Linked DNA regions of Homo sapiens. The protein of the gene in region 2 purifies or fractionates together with the protein of the main gene of each other region. This does not show direct contact. Each region holds a gene or a part of one and is shown on either strand. Other genes may lie near its edges.

Region 1 (5,119 bases), about 22 Mb from region 2:
TGCAATCTCAGCTCACCGCAACCTCTGCCTCCTGGGTTCAAGCAATTCTCGTGCCTCAGCCTCCCAAGTAGCTGGGACTACAGATGCGTGCCACCATGCCTGGCTAATTTTTTGTATTTTTAGTAGAGACGGGGGTTTCACCATGTTGTCCAAGCTGGTCTCGAACTCCTGACCTCATGATCTGCCCGCCTTGGCCTCCCAAAGTGCTGAGATTACAGGCGTGAGCCACCGCACCCAGCCCTCTTATTTTTCATTTATTGTTTATAACTTATAGGAGCTATCCCTTTTATTTTCAGTATGATCCATACCTTTCTTTTCAGACAAAAACCCTTAAATAATGACTTTAAATGACTTGGTGAATTTAGTGAACCAAAACAATATTTTCCTATGTTGTGGTTAAATGAATTAGAAAATTAGTTTCAATAAAATACACAAGAATATGAAAGAGAATAAGAATTTATGAAATGTAATTTTGGTTACAAGCGTTGTAGTGATCAGGGTTTGGGATAGATAATGAAGTACAAGATGAACAGACAAATCCCTATGTTGCAACTTGAGGGTAAAGTAAAAAAAAAAAAGTGATTTCAGGGGAAGGCAGGTTAAGGGATGCCTTTCAAAATTACCTGGTATAGTTGGCTTTTTTTTTTTTTTAAAGATGAGGGTGAATTATGAGTGACTTAAGGCTGAAGAAAATCTTTATGAGGCACTAAATATTTACGAACAACAGATATCACTGAGGCAAAGATTTAAGCAAAAGAAAACGGCATCTGGAGGACATGGAGAGAGAACAGCCTAAGAGTTAACATCTTCCTTGCAAATAGAAGAGAAAGGGTTAAGGGTGAGAGTGATCAATGAGTGCTAGAGTTATCAAGGAGCAGGATGATGTTCAGAAAGGTCATCTATTTGGATATGAGGAGGAATCATAAGAGACTGGACGAGTAGGCAGTGAAGGCCACTTAGTACTAGAAAATATAATAAACTAATGGTCTTATCGACCATACTGGTATCAAGAGCTATCTCAATGATCAGGATCTTAAGAGTATTTCAGTTCCAATCATTCATTCTCACTGCCTCTGCCTGATTCCAGTCCTGGCCTGATTCCCGTTAAATTTTTTTTTATAAACTACCTTTTATTTTTCTTCTGATGATGAACAAGAGTTCTGCATACACGTACACACTTTATATTTAACATATATTTATATAGTGCTTACCACTGTCACATATCATTCTAAACCCTTTATAATTACAAATTCATTTAATTGAGAAGAGACATGATATCTTTCCCCCAATTAAAAGATCTAAATTGATTTTCAATCTGTAGGAATAAACTTGGTTTAAAGTTTGAGAAGAGAACCAAACTTGTGTGTGATCTAAACATTAAAAGTTAAATCCCCTCGACATTCTCTTTCCCTACCTTGCCTACCTACTACTATATTGAGGAGGAAAATGTTGGTAGAAGAGATTTACAAAGGCTTTGGGCCTCTCCCTACAGTCCTCATGACAACTTGCATGCTTTTTGGTGAAATAAAAAATAGTCGGCCGGGCGCGGTGGCTCACGCCTGTAATCCCAGCACTTTGGGAGGCCGAGGCGGGCGAATCACGAGGTCAGGAGATCGAGAGCCATCCCGGCTAAAACGGTGAAACCCCGTCTCTACTAAAAATACAAAAAATTAGCCGGGCGTAGTGGCGGGCGCCTGTAGTCCCAGCTACTTGGGAGGCTGAGGCAGGAGAATGGCATGAACCCGGGAGGCGGAGCTTGCAGTGAGCCGAGATCCCGCCACTGCACTCCAGCCTGGGCGACAGAGCGAGACTCCGCCTCAAAAAAAAAAAAAATAGTCATGGCAACGTGTGGTGTCTCACATATGTAATCTCAGCACTTTGGGAAGCCAGGGGACCAAGGAGAAAGGATGGCTTGGGCCCAGAAGTTCAAGGTTGCAGTGAGCTATGATCACAACACTGCACTCCAGCTTGGGCCACTGAGTGAGACTCTGTCTCAAAAAATAATCACTCCTCCTAACAAAGTTGAATACTTCCAGTTGAAGCCAATAACCTGCTTCAGTGATTTCCTATTCCTTAGGCAATGGAAAATGATTGGGAAAGTTGCCTTTGAATTCCCCTATGGTTAGACTTGAAAAACAAAACAAAACAAAAAACCTTGTCTTGTCTAAAAAAGAAATCCTGCAGACCAGCCTGCAGATAGCGGTAAGTCCTAAGGGGTTCACCCGTTTCACATTTCAATAATATGCAACCTAAATAGAGTTTAGTGTTCATGTACACAAAATGATCCCGTATTTTAAACACACACTGTGGAATCTTTTGGTCCACCTCAAACATGTGCAGTCTTCCTGTAAAATTAAAAATATCAGCGGCACAAGTCACATGAACATCTCATTTCACAAGTCTTAATCCCAAGAGAATATAGTTTTTTAAAAAACAAAAACAAAAATCACACCCTATTTTAAATGCACCAAGCTGCCTCTATTAAAAAAAGTCTCAAGATGAGTATCCTTTAATATAATTTTTGCAAATAATAATCTCTATATCATTAGTAACTTCGAAATGTCATGGAATATCACCCTTAGCCAGGTAAATTTTGTCAACAGAAGTGGAACTCTCCAATTTTTGGAAACTACCTATTAAAAAATTAGGGCTCAAGTTAGTAGGGACTTTTTATTACCTGGCACTACAGATGTTCAATATTTACTGAACGTATTTTTAATTAACCTCTAGACAGTCTCTTTGCCTTTACTCAAAACCTTGCGAAGTGGCGTTTTATAGAGGGGCAAAGATCACATATATTGTGTGTCTGGTACACAGTATTATATTAACAATTATAACATCACCAAGAATGGTTATAAAGTGAAACTCCACATTAAATGACTGCTTATAAAGTCTCTTAATTTTATTATAACGGGACTTTCTGCGAAATACTGTTTCCAAACGCTAGGTACTAGCACAGGGGAAAGAAGACTCAGAAAGCTGAAGGTTCAACGAACGCAGTTTTCAATCCTTTATCCTGGACTACTGCCACCGAGTGTCAGATGCCAGAGGAATAATAAAAAACCGGGAAAACTGAAAACCTCGGATTGCGTTTCATCCCTTAAAAAAAAATCTGCAAAACTAAGATGTGATTAGTCACGCAATGCTTCAGGATTGCAGGAAATCGACGTTGTGGCCCGACGCTGACTGAAACATGAGAAGGGCAAACAGGTTTGCTGTTGTTTTCTCCCACCTTTCCTTCTTTTCCAGGCTATGTGACTTAAGGACATGAAAGCGTCTTAGGGGTGAACAAGAAAAGCTAGCGGCGCGGTCATTAGGTGTTAGGGTTTGGCTAGCTGGGGTAAACGTGGACTCTGGTCCGGCATGGCCCCAAACCATCAATCCATCCCTGACCTCGCCCCCTTTCGCTGTCCGGCCCGGAGCCCGCAGCCGGGCCGAGCGCTTGCCCTTCTGCATCTCAAGGTTATAGGACCGGCGGGCGCGTAGGGCAGTGGTAAAACAACCCAGTCGAACTGCGGGCGCGGCAACCGCTGAGCCTCACCAGCCTCACCCGCTCCCAGGCCCCACTTCACCTCGTACGCTGGAACTGGAAGTCAGACTCATGGCGCCGTCGCTTGCAAGGCGTGTGCACTAGGATACCGAGCTCAAACGGGTTCGCGCGGCCGGCGAGAGTAAAGGTGCCAGCGGCGTACTAAAGCACCGACTCCGCGATGCTACCGCGCAGGCGCCGCGGCGGGTCGTAGGCACGTGTGTGAGCTCGACCCTGGTAGGTGCTGAGCATGCGTGGAGCTGTCCTGGCCATAAGGAAGTCTGGACTCCGGATTTTGACAGCTACGGGAGGTGGGAGGAGGAAAAGACTTAGGTAGCAACAGAGTTTGCGCAACGCCGAGGGGCGGGGCCCTGAAGCCGAGGGGCGGGGCCCTGAAGCCGAGGGGCAGGGCCCTGGGATTAGGGAATCCAGGCCAGATTTTACGTCTCTTCCAGGTGTGTGGGCTTCTGGGGGCAGAAACAGGTGTTAATAGGACACTTACTTTAATCAGATACCTAAGATTTGACCCCAGTTTTTCTTGCTCGGGGCTTGTGACGATTTACCTTCAAGGCCAGGTCCAGCTTTTATATAACATGCCAGCGGCGGACATACAGGAATCAATGACTGAGTCCCATTCCAGAACCTCGCGTAGCTACCGGTGTCCATCCCTTTCTGCTTTTGATATAATTATCTACTCAGGACCTTGGAACCTGCACTATCTTAAAGGTCGAGTGGGAGAGAAAAAACTTGCTCCTTTCTTTAAAAAACATGTTCACTTAAAAAAATTAGAAGTTTTCTCTGTCTTCTACAGTCTGAAATTCGTGTCGGTTCCAATTTTATTTTATTTTTATGTGTTTTACTTTTTGGTAAGAGCGGTTTAGAGACAGCAATCCGGGGAGGGGGGCTGAGATTAACTCGAAGGGTATTTTGAAGGCGCATCTCTAATAAGCTGCCTGCTTTTACTTCTGTTGTTTTCGTGCGGGGTGGGAGTTGGAGGGAGTTGAGTGCAGTTAGGGGTGGCCTTTAGAGCCACCCTTGGCAATGCTAGTGCCTTCCAATTCTTGCCGGACTGCTCCGCACACTTAGAAGTCCCTGGCTTCTCTGAGCTGACGCGCTGAGAAGCGTGTTGAATGAATGAGGCCACAGCAGCACGCGTGACTTCGAAATGCCCGCGGGGTGGGGGTGAGAAGAAACAGGGGTGCGCTCGCCCTATCCCTGTCGCCGTCGCCAGGTCCTGGCAGCACGGCGCGCCCGCCCCGCTGACTTGGGGGGCCGGAATCCCGTTGGACGGCCTCTGGGCATGCTCAGTAGCGGCGGCAGCGGCGGTGCGGGCGGCGGTGACGCGCGCGCGGCAGCTGAGGGGACTGGAGGACGGCGGGAGGGGGCGGGGGCGCAGGAGGTGGGNCCGCCGTCGCCGTCAGGGCCCCAGGGAGCGCGGGGCGCCGCTGCTGCTGTTCTTCGGCTCGGTTCTGTCTACCGGGCAGCGCCGGGGCCGGCGGCTGCGGCGGCAGAGGAACAGGAGCCGGGAGCCGCGTTCCGCCGAGAGTTGGGCAGAGGAGCGCCCGCGCCCCGGCGGCGTCATGGGCCCCC
Region 2 (5,232 bases):
TCTTCTTGGAAATTGTAGAATAGAGAAAAGAAACTGGTGTGGGCAGGAGCTGAATGTGGAACCAAAATGCATGCTGAATGCTGGAACATCAGAGGTCCTGGGACCTTTCTGGTGCACCCCCTCCTTCCTCCTGGATTCACCCCTCTTCTTCTGCTGTCTTTTTTTTTTTTTTTTTTTTTGAGACAGATTTCGCCCTGTCACCCAGGCTGGAGTGCAGTGATGCAATCTTGGCTCACTGCAACCTCCGCTCCCTGGGTTTAAATGATTCTCCTCCCTTGGCCTCCCGAGTAGCTGGGATTACAGGCATGCACCACCATGCCCGGCTAATTTTTGTATTTTTAGTAGAGACGGGGCTTCACCATGTTGGCCAGGCTGGTCTTGAACTCCTGACCTCAGGTGATCTGCCTGCCTCAGTCTCCCAAAGTGCTGGGATTACAGGCATGAGTCACCGTGCCCGGCCTCCTCTCTCTTCTTAGCCACTGTTTTCCCCCGTAAGCCTGAAGCAGTTCCTGGCACTTGTTCCCATGGGGAAGCGTCTGTGTAAGGGTATGCTTCACCAGCACTGCCAAGGAAGTAGACTTTTCACTTTCTCTGGATTTTTCTCTGCAACACCCTCTGATCCCATTGCCCCCAGAATAGTAGGAATTTTGAGTGATACCTAGATAGGAAAGCTCTTAGGATTAATGAAGAAACTGAGATTTTCTTGGTGGGAGTTTGTGCTTTTAAAGGGAGTTGTTGCAATTCAATGGAACTCTGTAATAACCACTGAAACTGTTACACATTAGGCTTACTGACCCTATCTCCTATAACCCATGAAATAAAGACCTGATAGTCACATAGTTGTTTGCTATTTGGGAGGATCCTAAAAGTACAGCCTGAACAGTGACCCAAACCACAGCTGGCCTTGCCCATGCTGATGTGAGGAAGGAATGGGTGGGGGCAACTAAGAAATTGGGGGACAGAGTTCTCTGTGCTAGGTATCCTAGGACAAGCCACCCAGCCACACAGAGACCCCCCGCTTCCCCCCCACAGAACAGTTCTGGATGATAAAATGCCTGCCTGGAATGGAGAATCAGATGAGAAGATGTTTGCAAAGGGGTTTGAGATCAGTTAGCGGGTGGTGATGACAATGTTGATACCGTGGGTGTGTGACTGCCAGGAGCTGTGAAGCAGAGGGTGGAGTGTGCGGTGGTCAAAGCCTGGTTCTGGGATCTCTAGCTTTCCAGGGGCTTAGGCTCCGCCTTAGCAGAAAAGAAGGAAAGGAAATTGAGAAGGAAGTCAGGTGTCCCCTGCCCCTCACACTTGGGGATGGCTGACTTGGAGGACATGAGATGGGGGAAATCTGAGTGAGGGCAGAGAAGAGAAATGTGGAGGCTGCTCACAGGGAGGCTAGGGAGCATATGGCATATCCAGCCTGGGGAGTGGCACCACTGGGGGAAAGGGTGCGTGTGACAGTGGGGAAGGAGTGGTGATAACAGATGTGAGCTTGCTGTGTCCACTAAAAAGGTCACGGCTATTTTTAGGAAGTAGGTGACAAGGCATGTTCCTGTAGAACTGCTTATTACTGAGAACCCACTGTTGGCCTCGCCCTGCGTGGTGTGCTTAAAAGGAGAGACCGCCCCCACTCACCCTAGAGTCATCCACCTGGTGTCCCTGAGACATGGGACACTGGATGAGGACCAGGTTTGGAGGATGAAGAAGATCATGTATTTGGTTTTGGACATGTTGTGTTTGAGGTGTCTTTGAGATACCAAATAAGCTGGTGGGTCTGGGGCTCAGGAGGCGTCTTGGCTAGACAGACATTTGTCTAGGTTGTGTTTGTATTTGAAGTCATGGGCACAGCGAGATTGAAGAACTCACCTCGAACAGCTGAGTAAAGGAAGATGAGCCTATAAAGGACCCAGAAAAAGAGCGACCTGAGAGGGGCCCAGAAAGCCAGGACAGAGTTGTATCCCAGGGGCCAGGGTGAGTCTGCTTCGTGGGATGGAGTGGTCAGCTTGGCATCGCGGCTGTGGTGAGTGATATGGAGGAGATGTGGCTGCCTTCACTGCTTTGGTGGGATGATGTGAGCAGAAGCGAGGTTGGAGTGAATGGGTGAGGAGTAGCAGGACGTGAGGATCTGATGATAGACAGGCTCTGAAATGTTGGCTTTGAAGGCGAAGAGGACGTCGTTGAGGGAGTGTTTGATTCTGTTGCCTCGATTTACCCTCCTGCTCCCTTTCCAATCCCAGAAGGGAACATGTGGATGGCCTGCCACTGACATCCCTCCCCACGGCGCTCCGTGCTCAGGCAGACCTAGGTACCTGCAAGGGTTTGCTTCTTTCACAAAGTGGATTCATTCTCATGAATGAATGAATGAGTGAATGAAGCATGTTGCCCAGGTTGGTCTCAAAGCCCTGGCCTCAAGCAATCCCCCCGCCCCGCCTCAGCCTCCCAAAGTGCTGGGATTACAGGAGTGAACCACTGCACCTGGCTGGTATTAAATTTTCTTTGTGGCCAACTGCATGATAAATATTAACATGTTTCATGGGCGTGAAAGGAGAAAATAGGTCCTCTGCGGGACGCTGACTTTAGATAGATCTCTTAACTTCAGTTACCCTTATATCCCTGCTTGCCTGGCTGTCAGATTCTGAGAGGTATAACAAAAACTCTCACTGTAGTTTTTTAAAGTCCAGCTCTACTTATATTTGTGGGAGTTCTAGCCTTTTGAGTTTGGCTTTCGTGTTTCATGTATATAGGCTTATCAAGCTGATCTTCCTACCTGTCATTTGCTGGTTATTTAATGCCTTTGGTCTTTGGTCTTAAATTCCATATTGTCTGTGTTTTAGGAGAATACATGGCCAAGGATCTGGGAGAATCTCTTTTCTTTACAGTCTTAAAATTAATAAATAAGTGCATTTTATAAGATAATAAGTGAAAGGCTCAGAAATTTAAATGCAGGCATCAGAGGACATTCAAGCCATGCCCCTTTAGCTTCTGTTCAGGCTCACATGGAGCGGTTAGTAATCAGGTCTCACTGATGACCATGAGCTCCCTGTCCTTGGCTGTCCTAATGGTTCCCATGATAGCCAGATTTTTAGGAGGGGTGGATAAAATGAGATTTGCGTGCAAACTCCTGGGACGTTGCCTGGGAACCTCTTCTCTCACTTTGCAATTCCTGCCCCTTCCTGTAGGTCCAAGAAGCGGACTGCTCTGCCTCTCATTTACGCATTTCCTTCCTCATTCCAGACAGCAAGATGAGTTTTTGACAGAGTAGCCAGTACAAACACTTCTCAGGGCCAGAAGTCAGAAAGACGCGGGCCCCAAGTCATAAGCTCATCTCTGTGCTTGTGTTTTAAGCCACATAAACTGTCTCAGCGGGCTGGACTAGGCTATGCCTTGTTGTACCCTGAGATCCTAGTGAGTAGTTCTCCAAGTACTGTGTTTACAGATAAAGGCAAATGCCAGAGAGAAATGGCTGGAAAAACCCCTTGGCTTGCTAAGGCAGGATTATCGAAAAGTCTTCAACATATATGTTTTTAAATTTTACATATTTTTTCATTTTTATTTATTTTGAGACCAGACTAATTTTTGTATTTTTGGTAGAGATGGGGTTTTGCCATGTTGCCCAGGCTGGTCTCAAACTCCTGGGCTCAAGTAATCTGCCCACCTCAGCTTCCCAAAGTGCTGGGATTACGGACATGAGCCACTGCACCCAGCCAACCACTGTGCCCAGCCTATTTTTACTATTAATATTTCCACCTCTGTTTTTCTTTGCATTTATTTGGTATGTCTTTGCCCAACCCTTAGTTTTAAATATTTCTTTCTCACTTAAAAAAGTTTATCTTGGCTGGGCGCGGTAGCTCACGCCTGTAATCCCAGCACTTTAGGAGGCCGAGGCGGGCAGATCACGAGGTCAGGAGATAGAGACCATCCTGGCTAACACGGTGAAATCCCGCCTCTACTAAAAATATAAAAAATTATCCAGGCGTGGTAGCGGGCGCCTATAGTCCCAGCTACTCGGGAGGCTGAGGCAGGAGAATGGCATGAACCCGGGAGGCGGAGCTTGCAGTGGAGCCGAGATCGTGCCACTGCACTCCAGCCTGGACGACAGATCAAGACTTGGTCTCAAAAAAAAAAAAAAAAAAAGTTTATCTTGAAGATGGAATCTTCGTAAATAAAATTTGTTTCTCTTATAATCAGAACGTGGTTGAGGGTGGATGGAGGTTGACAGAAGGCAATGATAACAGCAACAAACCTAATTGCATGGTTTCTGTCTTTGGTAGAGGAATTCTGACTGTTGACATACCAGATATACTTGATTTTATTCTTTGCATCTTGCTTATTACTTATTATACTTGCATGCATTCCTTTCCTGATTTTTGCTGTTGGGTTAAGTTTCTCATCGTCATCTTCCCCACGCCACCTGTATTACGTTTCAGGTTTGGTTGTGAATGAAGAGAGGAGCCCCGTCTCTCTCTCTCTCTCTCTCTCACTCACTCTCTCACTCTTTCTTGAAAAATCAGGGTCGAGGTTAAGTGTGTGTTCCATGAGATTGTCTTGGCACCAGGCTCCTTATGGACTGTTGTCCCTAGCATTCTCAAGGGCTGTGGTTTTCAAACTTGAGCATGTATAAGAACAATCTGGAAGGCTTGTTAAAGCATAGATTCTTGGACTGCACCCTGAATCATTCTAATTTAGGAGGTCTGTGATGGGACCTGAGCACGTTAATTGCTTACAGGCTCCCATATTGTATAATGCCGCCGGGCCACATGTTGGGTAGCACCGTCTAGGTGCCTCCCTTAACTGCATGGCCCAAGACAGCTCACTTTCACATCCCCATGGCAGGCCCTCCTAGCTGCTAGGGGTCTGGAAAGCAGTCCTTAGTGGGGGCTGCTGTGTGCCAGGCTATGGTGTGTTCTGTTACTAAAGCAAGAGAGAACAGATGGTTGAGGAGGACAATCAGAAGTTTCTGGAACACCACCCACTGCTCTCCTGAATTTGAAACTACTACTATGCTTATCAGTCTTGCTGTTGGCTAAGCCTGTGTTCCTCAGGTTAGGAAGTGGGAATGGTTTCTCATGACAGTGGCAAGCCCGCAGGCAGTGCAAGCAAGGCAGCTTCTGTTCCTGTGGGCTGGTGCACAAGCTGGCAAGCTGCTGTGGCTTTGCTGATGCCCCGAGAGTCATCTGCTGCTCCCAGCCGTCAGGTCTGGCATCCGCATACTCCATTGCTGCAGCCACCACCAGATCT
Region 3 (4,550 bases), on a different chromosome or scaffold from region 2:
GAAGGACAGCACAGTGATCTGTTTCATCTACAAACGTGAGTGTAAAACATCTGTGTACAAGCCTGTGTTCTTCAAATTCATGCAAACGCGGCAGCCACATCTCCGCGTGGATGGGCAGGACTGTCCTCAGGGCCGGCTCTGCTCATCCGCCCTGGCTGGCTGCTCCGCTGAACAGAGCTGCGGCTGTGATGCTGAGGCTGGGTTGCGTGTGCTCTGCAGCGGGTGAAGCAACCACAGGCTTAGAAAGGTGCGGGATCCGACAGGGGCTTGTCACCACTCCCCGCTGAGGAAGGGAGGTTGTCACTGCCGTTCTCTCTGTCACCCACAACCTTAGACTACAGGAGAGAAAAGATGAAGACAGAAAAACCTGAGACAGAGCACACAACACAAGGCAGATCCCAGGCCCATGCTCAATGCTCTACAAAAGCTTATGTAACACGAACACTGCTCAGCAGGGACAGGGAGCAAATCACGGACGGGCACCAGCCCCAACAGGTCTCCAGAGAACGATGCCAAATGAAGACAGTGAATGCCAAAAAGCTGCACACTGTATCGTTCCATTTACGTGACATTCTTGAAATGACACAATTATACAAAGGGAGAGTGGACTAGGGGTTGCCGGGGGTAGGGCGGGAGGAAGGTCAGCATGGCCAAGAAGGTACCAGGAAGGGCAGTGGGGACCAGGAAGGGCAGTGGGGACCAGGAAGGGCAGTGTGGAGGCGTTCTGTGTCCTGAGTCAGTGCCAATGTCCTGGTGGGGAGGCTGCACTACAGGATTTTCCAAGATGTCGTCACAGGAGAGAACTGTGTAAAAGGCACAAGGAACCTCTCTGCATTACTTCCCACAACTGTATGTGAGTCTACCATAACTAAATGACTAATAATAAACAAGTTGCTGTAACAGGTCACACCTTGCCAAGACCATCAAACAGTCCAGGTACAATTACCTTTATGGTCCCAACTCGGTCCTCAAACGACTTGAAGGTCGCAGAGTTCCTTTAAAGAGAGAGGGAAGAGTGTCGGTGTCAAGAGGAGAGGGTTGTGCTGCTCTCCTAACTCGGAAGGGCCTCAGGGTTAGGGCCAGCCTCCAAAGGGTCCCTAACAACATCCCAAGATCTCATGGCAAAACTGTGAGACAGCCAGGTCATTCCGGAGACTCCCCAGGTCAAAAGTGAGGTCGGCCATGCCCAACAACCACAGGGACAGGTCCAGACGTCACACAAGGCAACTGGAAACCCCTTGACTGTGCAGCTGGGGAGATGTCGGCCCCTCTCTGTCATACCCTACAGGGACATCCCGGGCTCTCGTACTGAGGTTATGAAAAGTCTGTGCAGTTGGGGGGCTGTCGGCCCCTCTCTGCTGTCCCCTACAGGGACACCCCGGGCTCTCGTACTGAGGTTATGAAAAGTCTGCGCAGTTGGGGGGCTGTCGGCCCCTCTCTGCTGTCCCCTACAGGGATACCCCGGGCTCTCGTACTGAGGTTATGAAAAGTCTGTGCAGTTGGGGGGCTGTCGGCCCCTCTCTGCTATCCCCTACAGGGACACCCTGGGCTCTCGTACTGAGGTTATGAAAAGTCTGCGCAGTTGGGGGGCTGTCGGCCCCTCTCTGCTGTCCCCTACAGGGATACCCCGGGCTCTCGTATTGAGGTTATGAAAAGTCTGTGCAGTTGGGGGGCTGTCGGCCCCTCTCTGCTATCCCCTACAGGGACACCCTGGGCTCTCGTACTGAGGTTATGAAAAGTCTGCGCAGTTGGGGGGCTGTCGGCCCCTCTCTGCTGTCCCCTACAGGGACACCCTGGGCTCTCGTACTGAAGTTATGAAAAGTCTGTGCAGTTCTTCATGCACATCTCTCAGAGAAGCAAACGGAAGACCAAGGACACTTCTGGGACAGCAGAGTGATAAGGAGACAAGAGGAGAAAGCAGGCCAGCTCCATCCCACTCAGTCCCTCCCACACAAACAGATACCCCTCCCAGGCCCGGGGACTCTAGAGGCCAGCACGTCTGCGACACCCAGCCAGAGTCCCCACAAGGAGAACAGGGCTCTCCTGAGAATCAGGGCGGTGCCTGACGGCGCAGGCACAGAATAGGGACCACAGTTCTGGGCTCTCCTGAGAATCAGGGCAGTGCCTCACGGCACAGGCACAGAATCCTGAGAATCAGGGTGGTGCCTGACAGGCACAGAATAAGGACCACAGCTCTGGGTGTTTCCGTGAAGGCTGAGACCGTGAAGTGTCCTGAGTGACAGCCCACCAGGGCAAGTGCCAGGATCTGTGTGCGAGCCCCTCGAACCCCACCCCACCCACTGCAGGCAGCCAGGGTCAGGACTTGGAAAGGACACGGCCCAGTTTGACACAAGGATCTCCTCTGGAGGCTGCAGGTGAAGAGCCTGACCCCCTACCAGCTCTTCCTCGTCAGCCTAGAGGGGGTTTTTACCGGCCCTTAGTCATCAGAGGTTGCCAAGGGAATGGAGTCCTCAATTAATCCAGGAATATGGGAAGGGCAAGGTGTAACCGGCGGGAGCTGCCCCAACCCCCACCAGAGACACCCGGCTCTGGAGCCGCAGCGAGCAGGCATACATTACCTCATGGCTGGCATACTTATTGAGTGGCGGATGGAGTAGCTGCTGCTTGGAAGCATGGCAGAAGCAGAGAAGGAAGCAAGAGTTAACACCAAGATCCACACACAACCCCAACTTGGCAGGGATGGGCAGAGCTGGGATTCCCCCACTCCCAGCAGTTGGAGCGAGCTGCCTGCCCCTCCACACAATGCCCCCGAAGGAAACTCGACCCCAGGGTCCTCCCTTGGCCTCATGGGGGGCACCCCAAGTTGCCCAGCGCATAGCACTGGGAGGGGGGAGAGCACTGCCATAGGAAGCTGTGAGGAGACCAGGCTTGGGCTTTTGAAAAGTATTTGGTACAAACAGCCTTCAGAAGTCAAGTAAGGACCTTTTGGCAAAAGAGAAACCACCAAGTCAAGTAAAAACACAAGAAATCACAGATTGTTCTGGGCCTGGCTCTAGACCTCCCGGTTCCAGCAGAAGGGCACGTGCTGGCGGCGCCCCGGCTTGGCCTAGAGGAGCTTGCTCTGGTCTGCAGGAGGGCCCTTTGGGAGGCACACCTATGGGCTCTCGGGTAGTAAACAAGACAAAACTCCATCTGAAGGAAAACAAGGAAACAGGACAGATGTTGAACAGGAAGGTGGTGAGAGTCGGCACAGCCCTCCCACGTGAAAAGGCTCCTTTGAGGGCCCGGCGCAGTGGCTCACGCCTGTAATCCCAGCACTTTGGGAGGCCAAGGCGGGTGGATCACGAGGTCAGGAGATCGAGACCATGCTGGCCAACATGGTGAAACCCCGTCTCTACTAAAAATACAAAAATTAGCCAGGCGTGGTGGCTCATGCCTGTAATCCCAGCTACTCAGGAGCCTGAGGCAGGAGAACCGCTTGAACCAGGGAGCTGGAGGTTGCAGTGAGCCGAGATCACACCACTGTGCTCCAGCCTGGTGATAGAGCGAGACTCCAACAAAAAAAAGAAAAAAAAGGCCGGGCGCGGTGGCTCACGCTTGTAATCCCAGCACTTTGGGAGGCCGAGGCGGGCGGATCACGAGGTCGGGAGATCGAGACCACGGTGAAACCCCGTCTCTACTAAAAATACAAAAAATTAGCCGGGCGTGGCGGCGGGCGCCTGTAGTCCCAGCTACTCGGAGAGGCTGAGGCAGGAGAATGGCGTGAACCCGGGAGGCGGAGCTTGCAGTGAGCCGAGATCGCGCCACGGCACTCCAACCTGGGCGACAGAGCAAGACTCCGTCTAAAAAAAAAAAAAAGCTCCTTTTCAGGAGTAAACTCAGGCCTGGACGCCAGGCCAGTTATTCACAGACCCGGCAGCAGGCGGTCTGTGAGCCTGAAGGGAAGCACGAGGAGGGGACACAGAAGGGCCGGGGGGTTCCGGGGGGCCTCTGCGTCGATCCCACGCTGCTGCTTTGTTCCCTGAGATGCAGCAACCACCTGGCTGGCACTGCTGTCCTGGAAGGGGTGATCCCACTTTCACTGCCCTCTACTAGCACAGCCGCCCAAGGGCCCTGCCGGAGTCCACCCTGCCCCAATTCAGAGAAAAGTCTTCCACAGGTGTGTCCAGGCTCAGCCTTACCTAAAGGAGTGTGAAAATGGATGAGCCCTGGAAGGTGGCAGCAGGAGAGAAGAGGAAACGAAGTGTAAGCAAGGGAGGCCAGCACCCACTCACAGCCCTCCTCGGGGAGCCCCAGGGGAGGCCCCCTGCTCGTGCTCAGTCAGGCCCAGCAGGGGAAGACCCTCCAGGACGGCTCCTCCAGTCCGCACACCACCGGGGACAGCAGCACTGTCTCCAGTCTCCTCAAGTCCTGACTCAACAGGAGGCTCTCGCAAGATCATGACTAGCAACTGCTCAGCCTCACGGCTGTGCCCAAGAGGCCCCTGGGTCCACGCCCTGTCCACGCCTTATGCCCCAAGGCACACCTGTTTGGAGAAGCCACAGCACCTGGAGCACAACCAGCCCCATCCAGCAGCGCAAAGGTGTGAA
Region 4 (4,550 bases), on a different chromosome or scaffold from region 2:
CTGTTTTTTTTAATTGTAACCATCCTAATGGGTATGAAGTGGTATCTCCTTGTGGTTTTGATTTGCATTTCTCAAATTACTAATGAATGGTGTTAAGCATCTTTTCATGTGCTTATTGGTCATTTGTATATCTTGGGAGAAATGTCTATTTAAGTCCTTTGCCCATTTTCTAATTGGATTGTCTTTTTATTGAGTTGTAAGTTTCTTTATATGTTCTAGATACTAGACTCTTATTAGGTATGTAATTTGCCAATATTTTCCCCATTCTGTTGGTTGTCTTTTACTTTCATGACAGTGTCGTTTGAAGCACAACCTGTAGGCATCCTCCCTTTCCCAACCTCTAACACCCACAATTTTACTCTCTACTTAGATGGGTTCAGAGTTTTTTCTTGGCGTCCACATGTGAGTAAGAACATGCAGTATTTATCTTTCTGTGCCTGATTTATTCTGCTTAACGTATTGTTCTCTAGGCTCATCCATGTTGCTGCAAATTACAGGATTTCATTCTTTTTTATGGCAGAATTGTATTCCATTGTGTATACCACATTTTCTTTATCCATTCACCTGTTGATGGACACTTGGGTATTGTAAATAGTGCTGCAATAAACGTGGGGGTGTAGGTACCCTTTGATACACTGATTTCCTTTCCTTTGGATAAGTAACCCAGTAGTGGGATTGCTGGATTATGTGGTATTTCTATTTTAAGTTTTTCTGAGAAACCTCCATACTGTTTTTCATAGTGGCTGTACTAATTTATATTCCCAGCAACAGTGTATAAGAGTTTCATCTTCTCTGGATCCTTGCCAGCATCTGTTATTTTTTGGTTTTTTGATAACAGGCATAATAACAGGTGTGAGGTGATACCTCATTTTGATTTTGATTTGCATTTCCCTGATGATTAGTGATGTTGAGCATTTTTAATATATTTGTTGGCCATTTATATGTCTCTTCTGAGAAATGTCTATTTAGATCCTTTGCCCACTTTTTAAATGGGATTGCTTGTTTGTTTTGTTGTTGAATTGAGTTCCTTGTATATTTTGGATATTAGTCCCTTGTCAGATGAATAGTTTGCAAATGTTCTCTCCCATTCTACAGGTTATCTCTTCACTCTGTTGATGATTTCCTTGAATTTAGTCCCATTTGTCTATTTTTGTTTTTGTTGCCTGTGTTTCTGAGGTCTTAGCCATAAAATCTTTGTCTAGACCAATGCCCTGAAGTGTTTCTCCTATGTTTTCTTCTAGTAGTTTTATGGTTTTGGGTCCTTAGTCCATTTTGAGTTGATCTTTGTATATAGTGATAGACACATCAGAGATTCTTAATCATGCTCTTTATGCTTTTAAAGTCACTCTGTTTTACATGTATATATTGAATTAAGGAATCGCAGCCATGATGTGCTGGGCTAGGTGTGTTAGCAGCACAAGCTAACCAACAAAGGTGGGGAATATACTGTGTTGTGCATTGTTCAGAAAGATTTAGAGTGGTTTGTCTTTGCAGCTTTCATTAGAGGAAGTGAGTACCTCAGAGAAGTGCTAAGGGGTGGGAAACTTACCATTTAAGTCTATTCTTAGAAGTGTCTGAAGCTTTGGAGCCTGAAGTAGAGACAGAGGAAGTGGGAAGCTTAAGAGAGTGTACATGAGAATTCAGCCAGTAAACTGAGACGTGCATTCAGAAAACCTAGATAGGAATTCTGGTTCCTACATTATTTGTTTGATGACTTTGGGCAAATCATTTAATTTACTTAATTTTGAACCTTATTCTTTCCTCTTTTTTTGTCCTTTTCTTCTCGTATTCCACTTCGTCAATGTACATCTTAAAATGTGACTTACAAAACTGGGTCCAGTACTTGTGACTCTGACAAGCACAGGGGATTATTTATTTGTTCTGAGGGACCTCTGTTCCAGTTAATCTTATCTGAGAGTGGTGTTGTAGGTTCTTTTTCTTCTTTTTTTTTTTTTCTTGGCAGCTGCATCACATTTGATTTATCCTTTTCTCCGTTGCACTAATTTTCTTTGTTTTGTGTTCTCTAAAGACTTAAACATCTGTGAAAACATTTGACTGAGCAATACTCTATGTTATTTTTAAAGGGCATGTTGTCTTTGAAATCATAGAAATACCGTGCAGGTTGGGGCTGAAAATATGGCTTTGCAACAAGCCAGGAGACGCATTTCTCTGAGGGTCTTGAATGTTAATGGATATACTTTAGGGACCTAGATTTTCAATTTCCTGGGACCTAAAGTCTCTTCCACATGGTGTCTATTTCTCTCTGAAATAGGCAGTCCACCCTTTTCCCTGTTTCTGAAATAGAGAGTCTACCATTTTCCCTGTTTTCCTGGATTAGCCTTTTGTTCTACTCTGTCCATTTTTTCCTTTTCTTCATAGCTTCTGCTTACAGTTTTAGATTCCTCAAGCATATTTAAGCTTTCCATACCTCTCATAATCTCACTGTAGCCTACCTATACCTCAAGGCTTCTTCAAGTTTTTTCAGCTTCTACTTGCAATGTCATCTCACTTCTCAAACTAGATTCCTGAGTGAGAGAGACGAATAGTTGAGCACCTCTTTTCACACTGGGCTCATCCACTGGCTCTTGATGGGTGGCTGTCCATGGGTCAGGGCCCACCTCTAACCACCTAGTCAAGTCTGGGCAGTCAGCATCAAGGGGTTCACATGAAACCCTTGAGAGCAGGGATCTCCTGAGGAGGCGGTTTGATTTATTATGGCCATGACTTTGCCAGACACAGGGACTGAGTATATGTATCCAGTATATATACTCATATCAAATATGCAAGGAGATTGGATTTGGGTTTGGCTTGGTTGTGTGTGTTTTGGTAGGGGATGGAGATTATTTTGATTTAGTATACAAATACAAGTTTTGTAGGCATTCAGATAGAAATGTCTAGGCTGGGAAGGCAGACCCACAGGTCGGGAGAGTGGATGTTAGAGTGCTTTATTAAGTATTATCTGTGTAGAAATTTGAGTCCTAAACCTACATGAGATAGCTGAGTAAGGAAGTATAGGGAGAGAGGAGAAGGCCAAAAACAGCTTAAGATGGGATTATAAAGAGCTCCCATGGAGGAGGAAAGAGAACTCTACAGGAGAGATCAGCAAGTAACCAGTTTACTCAACAACATTATACATTGTTTTTAGAGAGAAAGATAAATGATTCAAAAAAATGTTTAATGACTGGAATTTTGGATGTAGTTCTGTGGTAATAATCTTAACTTACTGAATGACTTTTGCTATATTCTTACCCCAAACCCCTTCCTCATAGGTAGAAGAAGAAATCCAGACTCTGTCTCAAGTGTTAGCAGCAAAAGAGAAGCATCTAGCAGAGATCAAGCGGAAACTTGGAATCAATTCTCTACAGGAACTAAAACAGAACATTGCCAAAGGGTGGCAAGACGTGACAGCAACATCTGCGTATGTTTCCTTGATCATACACTTTCCTTGGGAGTGTAAAGGACACTGTTGTGCCTTTTGTCTGGAGAGGGGAAGAAAAAGAGGATAAGGATGCTTCAGCAGCTTTTCTTTGGACGACACGGCACCCTTTTTTTCTGATTTTCAAGTGTGCCTGCCTTTTTTTGTAACTTCAATTTTTCCAGACCACTTATTCTAAGGAATAGAAAGAAAGCTAGCCAGTTGGAGAAATAAAATTCAAATCCCATAAGTGTTATGTATTGACTTGCCACAAATATGTACATTTTGTCCTTTAGTACTCAGAATAACCCAGTAAGAATGGGTGGCAAGATAACCCTGGATAAGGAAACAGGCTCAGACAAATTAAGTTTTCATGTCACAAACCTCTCAAAATGTGGAGTGGGAATTCAAACTCAGGTCTGGAGCCAGTCTTTATTATTATTATTAATGTATTTTTTTAACCTTGTTGTGTAGGTATCAAAAGATTCTCAGGTCGTAGTCTCAGATATATGCTCTTGGCAGAGGTCAATCCCTTAGGCTTTTTGTCTTTTTGACCACACATGCTATGATATAGCATTATCATAATGCAGTTTTGTTTCCCGGCACAAGGAGGAGCAAGCTTCTAGCAGCAGAAACCGAACTGCTCTGTCTTCTGTATTGAGAGCCATCTGCAGAGCTGGTGAGCACAGAAGTTGTTTTACAATTTAACTATCAGAAGTGAGGCCAACTGCATTTAACATGACAGTACTTGAGTCCCCAGTCTTTTGGTCCATTTTCTACCCATCTAAGTTGGCAGTGGGAAAACATACAGGAAACTATTTTTTCAACAGTATTACCATGAACCATGTTTTTTTATTGGTATTTGATCTTGACAGGGTAAGTAAAAATGCCTGAGCATTCTTTCCCATAATGTGGGAATTGTTTTGGTAGGTACGATATTATTTTGTTTTTTGTTGTTGTTGTTGTCATCATTTTTTTGTTTTTGCTTTTCTCTTCTCTAATCTCCAGGTAGCTGGGAAGGAGGTGGTAAATTATAGCTTTGCGTGATAGCAGATACCACACTAGAATAATTTTAAGCATTGCATATTTTACATACTTTGTTGAAAGTCCATCATGTCCGTATTTGGTAGCTCTC

The links. The genes of interacting proteins can lie anywhere in the genome.
Region 1: the proteins of ANXA11 (region 2) and CISD1 fractionate together in Homo sapiens (co-fractionation; one large-scale study listed by BioGRID). This does not show direct contact.
Region 3: the proteins of ANXA11 (region 2) and TPD52L2 fractionate together in Homo sapiens (co-fractionation; one large-scale study listed by BioGRID). This does not show direct contact.
Region 4: the proteins of ANXA11 (region 2) and TPD52 fractionate together in Homo sapiens (co-fractionation; one large-scale study listed by BioGRID). This does not show direct contact.

Annotation. Positions count from the first base shown.
Region 1 is NC_000010.11:58,267,758-58,272,876, reverse strand, and holds the start of CISD1 (CDGSH iron-sulfur domain-containing protein 1), read right to left. Parts: upstream 3,716-5,119; 5' UTR 3,604-3,715; coding exon 3,573-3,603; intron 1-3,572.
Region 2 is NC_000010.11:80,197,992-80,203,223, reverse strand, and holds part of ANXA11 (annexin A11), read left to right. Parts: intron 1-1,830; exon of another isoform or gene 1,831-1,965; intron 1,966-5,232. UniProt on the Homo sapiens protein: Binds specifically to calcyclin in a calcium-dependent manner. Required for midbody formation and completion of the terminal phase of cytokinesis.
Region 3 is NC_000020.11:63,885,635-63,890,184, reverse strand, and holds part of TPD52L2 (tumor protein D54), read right to left. Parts: intron 4,170-4,550; coding exon of another isoform or gene 4,143-4,169; intron 2,622-4,142; coding exon of another isoform or gene 2,580-2,621; intron 996-2,579; coding exon 947-995; intron 336-946; coding exon 240-335; coding exon of another isoform or gene 143-239; 3' UTR 1-142.
Region 4 is NC_000008.11:80,052,150-80,056,699, reverse strand, and holds part of TPD52 (tumor protein D52), read left to right. Parts: intron 1-3,269; coding exon 3,270-3,418; intron 3,419-4,024; exon of another isoform or gene 4,025-4,094; intron 4,095-4,550. Other genes in the region: TPD52-MRPS28 protein, read left to right, coding at 3,270-3,418.